Homo sapiens: one gene and its partner. The protein of the gene in region 1 purifies or fractionates together with the protein of each later gene. This does not show direct contact. Each region holds a gene or a part of one and is shown on either strand. Other genes may lie near its edges.

Region 1 (3,822 bases):
AGAGAGTTTGAGTTTAAGGAGAAACTTCTCCACTCCTTACTCATGTGTTCATTTTATGAAGCCACTTGAGAAGAGAGCCTCACTGCAGCCAGGGGTGGTGCCCTCAACCCACCCTACTTTACCCTACTAGGTGGCAAAGCTGTGGTCTATAACAAGGGCATTGTCTCCTGGTGCTCCCAGTTACCAGTCTACTAGGTGACACAGCATAACAAGGAGTCTTCCTGAGTCAAAATTGTGCAGTGATCTGCAGAATGCTCCCTCCAGCTTGGTCATGCCTCTTTCACCTGGCATTTTCTATAAGCACTACCTATACAATCCCCCATCCTGCCCTAACCTGGTTTCAATGATGTGTGTAACCTTTCTCCATACAGAAGACAATATGGTATGTATAATAGTGTTTGGGAAAGGAGAAGGTGGGGAAGGAATTATACTTTCTGTGCATCCCTATGGGGACCTCTTTTGGGCACTAGAACCGTTCCTAAGCTGGTTAGTCCTCCTAATTGATTCCCTGTCCTCCATGGCTTCCTGGGAATGGTGGAATTTGTCCCTCGACCTTGCTCATTACCCAAGATCTTTGCACTCACAGGGAGGCATCTGTAACATCGCTGACAAGCAAGAGGTACATCCTGAGGTTCCCAGCGCTGGAGACACTGATGCTGGATGACAACAGACTCTCCAACCCCAGTTGCTTTGCCAGCCTGGCTGGGCTCAGGAGGTAAAGCCATAAGCCTTTCTCTGCTGGGCCTCCTCTAATCCCCAGGCTTGCTCACACTCTGAGTGCTGTTCTGGAAGCCAAAAGGTTTGGGTTTAAAGCCTAGCTCCACAATTTATCTCTACTGTGTGGCCATGGGTAAGTCATTTCTCCCCTCTGAGCTTTGGCTCCTCCATAAAAATGGCCATGAGTGAGGACATTTCTGATCACATGACTGAATTAGAAGCAGCAAAGAGAAAGGAAAACAGGAGGAGATTTTACCCAAGATAGGATTCGGACCCTGACAGTAGAGACAGGAAAATTTTTTAAAATATTGAGAATCAGAAAGAGAAATTTAATTCCTGAATTCTAACTGAAGTAAAGAAAATAGTGGCATTTACATTGTTAAGCTTTACTTCTCTGGAAAATTTACTTTGGTTTCAACTACCATTTACTGAATACTACTTTGTGCCAGGCCATTTACATATTGCCTCATTAAATCTTCACAAGAACCCTGAAAGGTTAATAAATATTATCCCCATTTTAGAGACAGGGATATTGAATCCCAGAGAGAGTAAGTCACCGGCTCAACGTCACACAAGAGGAATAAGTATCCAAGCCTGATTCCATGTTTTTTCCCTAAAGTTGCTTGGTAAACAATCCTGAGGTATCATTATTGCTATGATTCTATATTCACTTTCCTTAATTGAAGACTGAAGAAGTTAAGCTTGGATGAAAACAGGATTATCAGGATCCCATACCTACAGCAAGTTCAGCTCTATGACGAGTCAGTAGACTGGAATGGAGGCAGGGGAAGTCCCCATAAAGAGCCCCAATTCATGCTGCAGTCCAAGCCAAGGATGCTTGAGGACTCAGATGAGCAACTGGATTATACTGTACTGCCCATGAAAAAGGATGTTGACCGGACAGGTGAGTGACACCCCTTGTCCCAGAAATTCTACCCTCATGGTGGAAATACACTTCTGAGAGTTTATTCTGAAAGTCTCACTTGGTCATGGTGAATATCACGAATTGAATTTGCTGATTCTTTGTCAAGGATGTTTGCATCTATGTTTGGGAGATGTGTTGGTGTATTGATTTCTTTTGTTACAGTATTCTTGTTAGGATTTATAATCAAGGTTATGCTTGCCTGATAAAATGTGTTTTGGAAGTTTTATTTCTGTTTCCTAGGAAAGTTTATATACTATTATTATTTTATCCTTAAATTTTGGAAGAATTCACCATGAGACCACCTGAGCCTGGAGTTTTCTTTGTAGAATGAGGTTGAAATTATGCAACTTTAGAAGCTTGGAAGAGGTGCTCCTGACACCTGAAATTTAGACCTCTGGGGAAGCGGTGCTGCTTGGCTGCTGGTGTCTCCGAGCTATGATGGGCTTCATGTAGCTGAGACCCAGATCTCTGAGGATACTGGCCAGCTGGTGCTGGTGCCTGTGGAGGAGTCACAGTGAAGCTAGTTTATAAAAGTTGGAAAAACTGCAAACTAGATTCAGCTACTGCTGGGGAAAGACTTGCTAGACTACAGCAAAAACAAAACAAATCAAAAACCACATTATTCCAGTGGCATTCACAGGAAGCACAAGCAGTTAGGAAACCCATGGGAAGCAGATAGGAAGAGATAAGCCCCTTTTTCCTCTTCCAGCTTTGCAGTCTCCCTTTAGCACCACCCATATTGTCAGAGTCTAACAGGAAACCAGCGGTCAAAGCAGAAATACGGTTTTGAGAGCCTCAGCTCCAGCATTCTAAAGCAGAATAAAGAAAGATGGATTTCAAAGTTAAAAATAATACTAATAACTGGCCGGGCACAGTGGCAGTTATTTTGGGAGGCCAAGGCTGGAGAATTGTTTGAGGCCAGGAGTTTCAGGCATGCAGTGAGCTATGATCATGCCACTGCCCTCTGGCCTGGATGACAGAACGAGACCCTATCTCTATAAAAAATTAAAAAATTAGCTGGGTGTGATGGCATGCACCTATAGTCCTGGCTACTGGGGGCTGAGGCAGGAGGATCCCTTGAGCCTGTAGTGAGCTATGATCACGCCACTGCTCTCCAGCCTGGCAGCAGAGTGAGACCCTGTCTCTACAAATAATAATAGTAACAACTTAATAAAGGGCACAATTATGTTATTCAGATTCTCCCTAAAATAATTTTCTGTCTGCTTGGTTTGTTAACTTTGGAAATAGGTATATTAAAGTCTGTCCCCACTGTTGTAGATTTGTCAGTATCTCCTTGCATTTCTGGCTTTTTTTTTTTTTTTTTTTACTGTGAAGTTGGTTTGGTTCTCTGTTATTAGGTTTGTGACTTTTATCTTGGTAGGTTGTGTATTTTAATCGTTGTAAAATATCCCAGGTAGATAAATAATTTTGGTTTTGACTTGGGCCTCTATTTTGTTTGATATGAATATTTATTTTAGGATATCTTAAAAACAATATAGTACTGCATATTTTTGCTTATATGATTCTTAATGAGTCTTTTTTCATAGAAGAATTTAACTCACATGGTGATTATTGATACATTTCACCTTATTTCTACCATTAGTGTGTTTTCTATTTACCTATGCTTTTTCTTTTTTTTCTTCTTGTGAGCACTAAGTTTTCTTTCAATTCCAATCTTTTCACTAATTGTTTAAAGCAAGAAATCTCATGTCTGTATCTCTAATGGTTACCCTAAAACTTTTTTTTTTTTCTTTTTAGAGACAGAGTCTCACCCTATCACCCCAGGCTGAAGTGCGGTTACACGATCGTGCTCAAACTGTATTGTTGAACTCTGGGGCTCAAGTGATCCTCCTGCCTCAGCCTCCCAAGTAGCTGGGACCACTGCACCTGGCTATTACCCTAAAACTTTTAATTCACATTTTAAAACTCACTTTTGTCTATCAACACCTAGAATCAACCAAATACATGTCTTCTTTTTTAATAAGAAAATTTTAATATGCATCTATCTATGCCACCCTACTCCCATCACTTCCCATAATGTAATAAACTCTAACAATAATTTAGATTGGTTTTAATTTTTAAAATTATATACCAATGATTCTTTAGACTGAAAGATTGAACCTCATTCTTAGGTTCTTTATCATGTGTACATATGTATAACTTAGGAGCAGAGACTTCTG
Region 2 (3,822 bases), on another chromosome or scaffold:
TATGACAGTGTTCACATATTTATTTCTGGTGTGTGTGTAAAGAAAAAAATCTCATTTTCTTTCTTTTTTTTTTATTTTTATTTTGAGACAGAATCTCGCTCTGTCGCCCAGGCTCGAGTGCAGTGGCGCGATCTCGGCTCACTGCCAACTCCACCTCCTGGGTTCACGCCATTCTCCTGCCTCAGCTTCCCGAGTAGCTGGGACTACAGGCGCCCGACCACAACGCCCGGCTAATTTTTTGTATTTTTAGTAGAGACTGGGTTTCACCGTGTTAGCCAGGATGGTTTTTATCTCCTGACCTCGTGGTCTGCCCGCTTTGGCCTCCCAAAGTGCTGGGATTACAGGACTGAGCCACCATGCCCGGCCTTTTCTTTTTTTTTTTTTCCCGAGACTGAGTTTTACTCTGTCACCCAGGTTGGAGTATAGTGGCGTGATCTTGGCTTACTGCAACCTCTGTCTCGTGGGTTCAAGTGATTCTCCTGCCTCAGACTCCCCAGTAGCTGGGATTACAGGTGCGTGCCACCATGCCCGGCTAATTTTTTATTTTTTAATAGAGACGGGGTTTCACCATGTTGGCCAGGTTGGTCTTGAACTCCTGACCTCATGATCTTCCTGCCTCGGCCTCCCAAAGTGCTGGGATTACAGGTGTGAGCCACCGTGCCTGGCCAGTCATCTCATTTTCAACTTGCATCTACGTTCTTTCATTAATTTTGTGACTGAGTTGGAGAGGGCTTTTGCATAAACAGATTCATGATGGTGGTCCTAAATTATTCTGAAGACAGGCAAACCTGTCTGTAGATGAGCAGGTTTTTTGCATATGGCTTAAGAAAGTCTGGAAAATTGGCCAGGCATGCTGGCTTGCCTATAATTCCAGCACTTTGGGAAAGCGAGGTGGGAGGATCACTTGAGCCCAGGAGTTTGAGATGTGCCTGGGCAACATGGTGAAACCCTGTTTCTACAAAAAAATTTTAAAAATTAGCCAGGTGTGGTGGCACATGTCTGTAGTCCCAGCTACTTAGGAGGCTGAGGCAGGAGGATCGCTTGAGCCCAGGAGATCAAGGCTGCAGTGAGCCATGATTGCACCACTGGACTCCAGCCTGGGTGACTGAGCGAGACCCTGTCTCAAGAAAAAAAAAAGAGTGGAAAATAGAAATTGTCAAAGTTTACACTATACAGTATGTTATTTTCAGGAAAGCGAATGTTTTCACTTTAATCTTACATCTTGTTAATATACATTAAGCAGTAGAAACTTCCTCTTTGGTATTTGGAATGACTGTTGAGATTTCTGTTTCTGACATCTTCCCTAAGTGCTTACCTGTTGCCAGGCTTTCTCCATATCTGTCTCTTCCTCAGTGTTGCCCCTGGTTGAATAGGGAGAAGATAGGGAAAACCAGCAGTAATTATTTCAGAATTGTTCACCCAGTTTGGAGATTTTTTTCAAGCCCTTCCTTTTTTTATTTAATTTTTTTTTTTTAATTAAAAAAGGTCTTTTTTTTTTTTTTTTTTTTGAGGCAGAGTCTCACTCTGTCACCGAGGCTGGAGTGCGGTGGCACGATCACAGCTCACTACAGCCAGGACCTCCTGGGCTCAAGTGATCCTCCTGCCTCAGCTGGGACTACATGCTCATGTTACCACTCCTGGCTAATTTTTATTCTTTTTATGTAGAGACAGGGTTTTGCCATGTTGCCCAGGCTGATATCAAACTCCTGGCCTCAAGCGATCCTCCCGCCTTGGCCTCTCAAAGTGCTGGGACTGTGGGTATGAGCCACCATGCCAGGCAAGCCCTTTATTAGATGTCTGATTAGTATGTTGCTCCTTGCTAGCATTTTCCCTAAATATTTTAATGGAGAGAAAGTTGAAATAGAGTAGACATGTTTTTAATTCTTTCTTTGGTTGTTTTCCTTGCCACTGCTTTCTTTGGTTAGTTACCATCATAGATAATTGAGTCCTGATTCTACTTTTGTTAATCTTTTGCCAGTACCATCTGAAGGAGTTTCTTGTTTTTATATACTTTTTTTTTTTTTTTTTTTTTTTGAGGCAGTCTTGCTCTGTCACCCAGGCTGGAGTCCAGTGGTACAATCTTGGCTTACTGCAACCTCCACCTCCCGGGTTCAAGCGATTCTCCTGCCTTGGCCTCCTGAGTACCTGGGACTACAGGTGTGTGCCACCATGCCCAGATAATCTTTTGTATTTTTAGTAGAGATGGGGTTTTGCCATGTTGCCCAGGCTGGTCTCGAACTCCTGAGCTCAGGCAGTCCGCCCGCCTTGGCCTCCCAAAGTGTTGGATTACAGGCATGAGCCACCGTGCCTGGCCTGTTTTTATATACTTTAAAGTTTAAATTAAACTTGTTAAAGTATGTGTTTTGTATGATTTGCCAAAACATTGGAATACAAGTAGCTGTCATAAAGCCTTTTTTTTTTTTTTTTTTTTTTTTTTTTGAGACAGGGTCTCATTCTGTCACCCAGGCTAGAGTGCAGTGGCACAATTATGGCTCACTGTAGCCTTGGCCACCTCCCAGGCTCAATTGATCCTCCCACCTCAGCTTCCTGAGTAACTGGGACTACAGTTATGCACCACCACACCCAGCTAATTTTTAAATTTTTTGTAGAGATGGGGTTTTACCACGTTACCCAGGCTGTTCTGGAACTCCTGAACTCAAGCGATGCTCCTGCCTCTGCCTCCCAAAATGCTGGGATTACAGGCGTAAACCACTATGCCTGGACTCAAGCCGACTTTTTAACATGAACAATAAGTCTCTTTCTTCATCTCCCTTCCTATCCTGTATTCATCTTGCCTTGAAGACCACAGATAAATTTTAAAAAATGGAATCATGGTAAAGAGTGTTCTTGTGTCATTATTTAAACAAACACTAAACTTTGTATCTTGGAATGCTTTCCATATCAGACATACAGATTGATACGGGTTGGCTGTGTCCCCACCCAAATCTCATCTTGAATTCCCACATGTTGTAGGAGGGACCTGGTGGGAGGTGATTGAATCATGGGGACAGGTCTTTCTCATGCTGTTCTCATGATAGTGAATACGTCTCATGAGATTTGATGGTTTTAAAAAGGGGAGTTTCCCTGCATAATCTCTCCTCTTTTGACTGTCACCATCCATGTAAGAGGTGACTTTGCTCCTCCTTGCCTTCTGCCATGATTGTGAGGCCTCTGCAGCCACGTGGAACTGTAAGTCAATGAAACCTCTTTCCTTTCTAAATTACCCAGTCTTGGGTATGTCTTTATCAGCATTGCAAAAACAGACTAATACACAGATCTACTTTAGGTACAGATTTGCTTTACCATGTTCTTTTTTTAATATGCCTAGTATTACCTTGTGTGAAGGTGCCTGAATTTATTTAACTAGTTGATATGAAGAGTTTCCAGGTTTTTGTTATTTGTAACACAGTGCTACAGTAAACATTTTTGTACATATGTCTTAGTGAACTTTCATGAGTAACCACCTTACTCTCAGCAGCCTTAAAAAAATTGACCAACAAGTTTCTAACTACTCTGAATAATCATTTGTCATGTTAAAAATTTTCTTGGTGGCTATATTAGTTTTACTACTTTTGTTAAGGCCGGATGTTTTGTTTTCTGAAGTAGTCCTGTGAGATAATTTCATACAATTAAGCACAGATTTTTTATATTGCATGTAGAATATTAAGCTCATAAAGTTTATAAAGGCACAGGGTTGGCTTTATGAGCCTGTAATTGCATCATACAGGGCCCTTGCTTGCTTCAGTGATCTGCTGTTGTAGTCTTGATAGTCTTAGGTTTTTTTTTTTTTGTTTTTTTTTTTTGAGACAGAGTCTCACTCTG

Evidence for each region.
Region 2: the proteins of XRRA1 (region 1) and KIAA0232 purify together in Homo sapiens (affinity purification with mass spectrometry; one large-scale study listed by BioGRID and IntAct). This does not show direct contact.

Annotation. Positions count from the first base shown.
Region 1 is NC_000011.10:74,904,038-74,907,859, reverse strand, and holds part of XRRA1 (X-ray radiation resistance-associated protein 1), read left to right. Parts: intron 1-586; coding exon 587-715; intron 716-1,403; coding exon 1,404-1,621; intron 1,622-3,822. UniProt on the Homo sapiens protein: May be involved in the response of cells to X-ray radiation.
Region 2 is NC_000004.12:6,788,905-6,792,726, forward strand, and holds part of KIAA0232 (uncharacterized protein KIAA0232), read left to right. Parts: intron 1-3,822.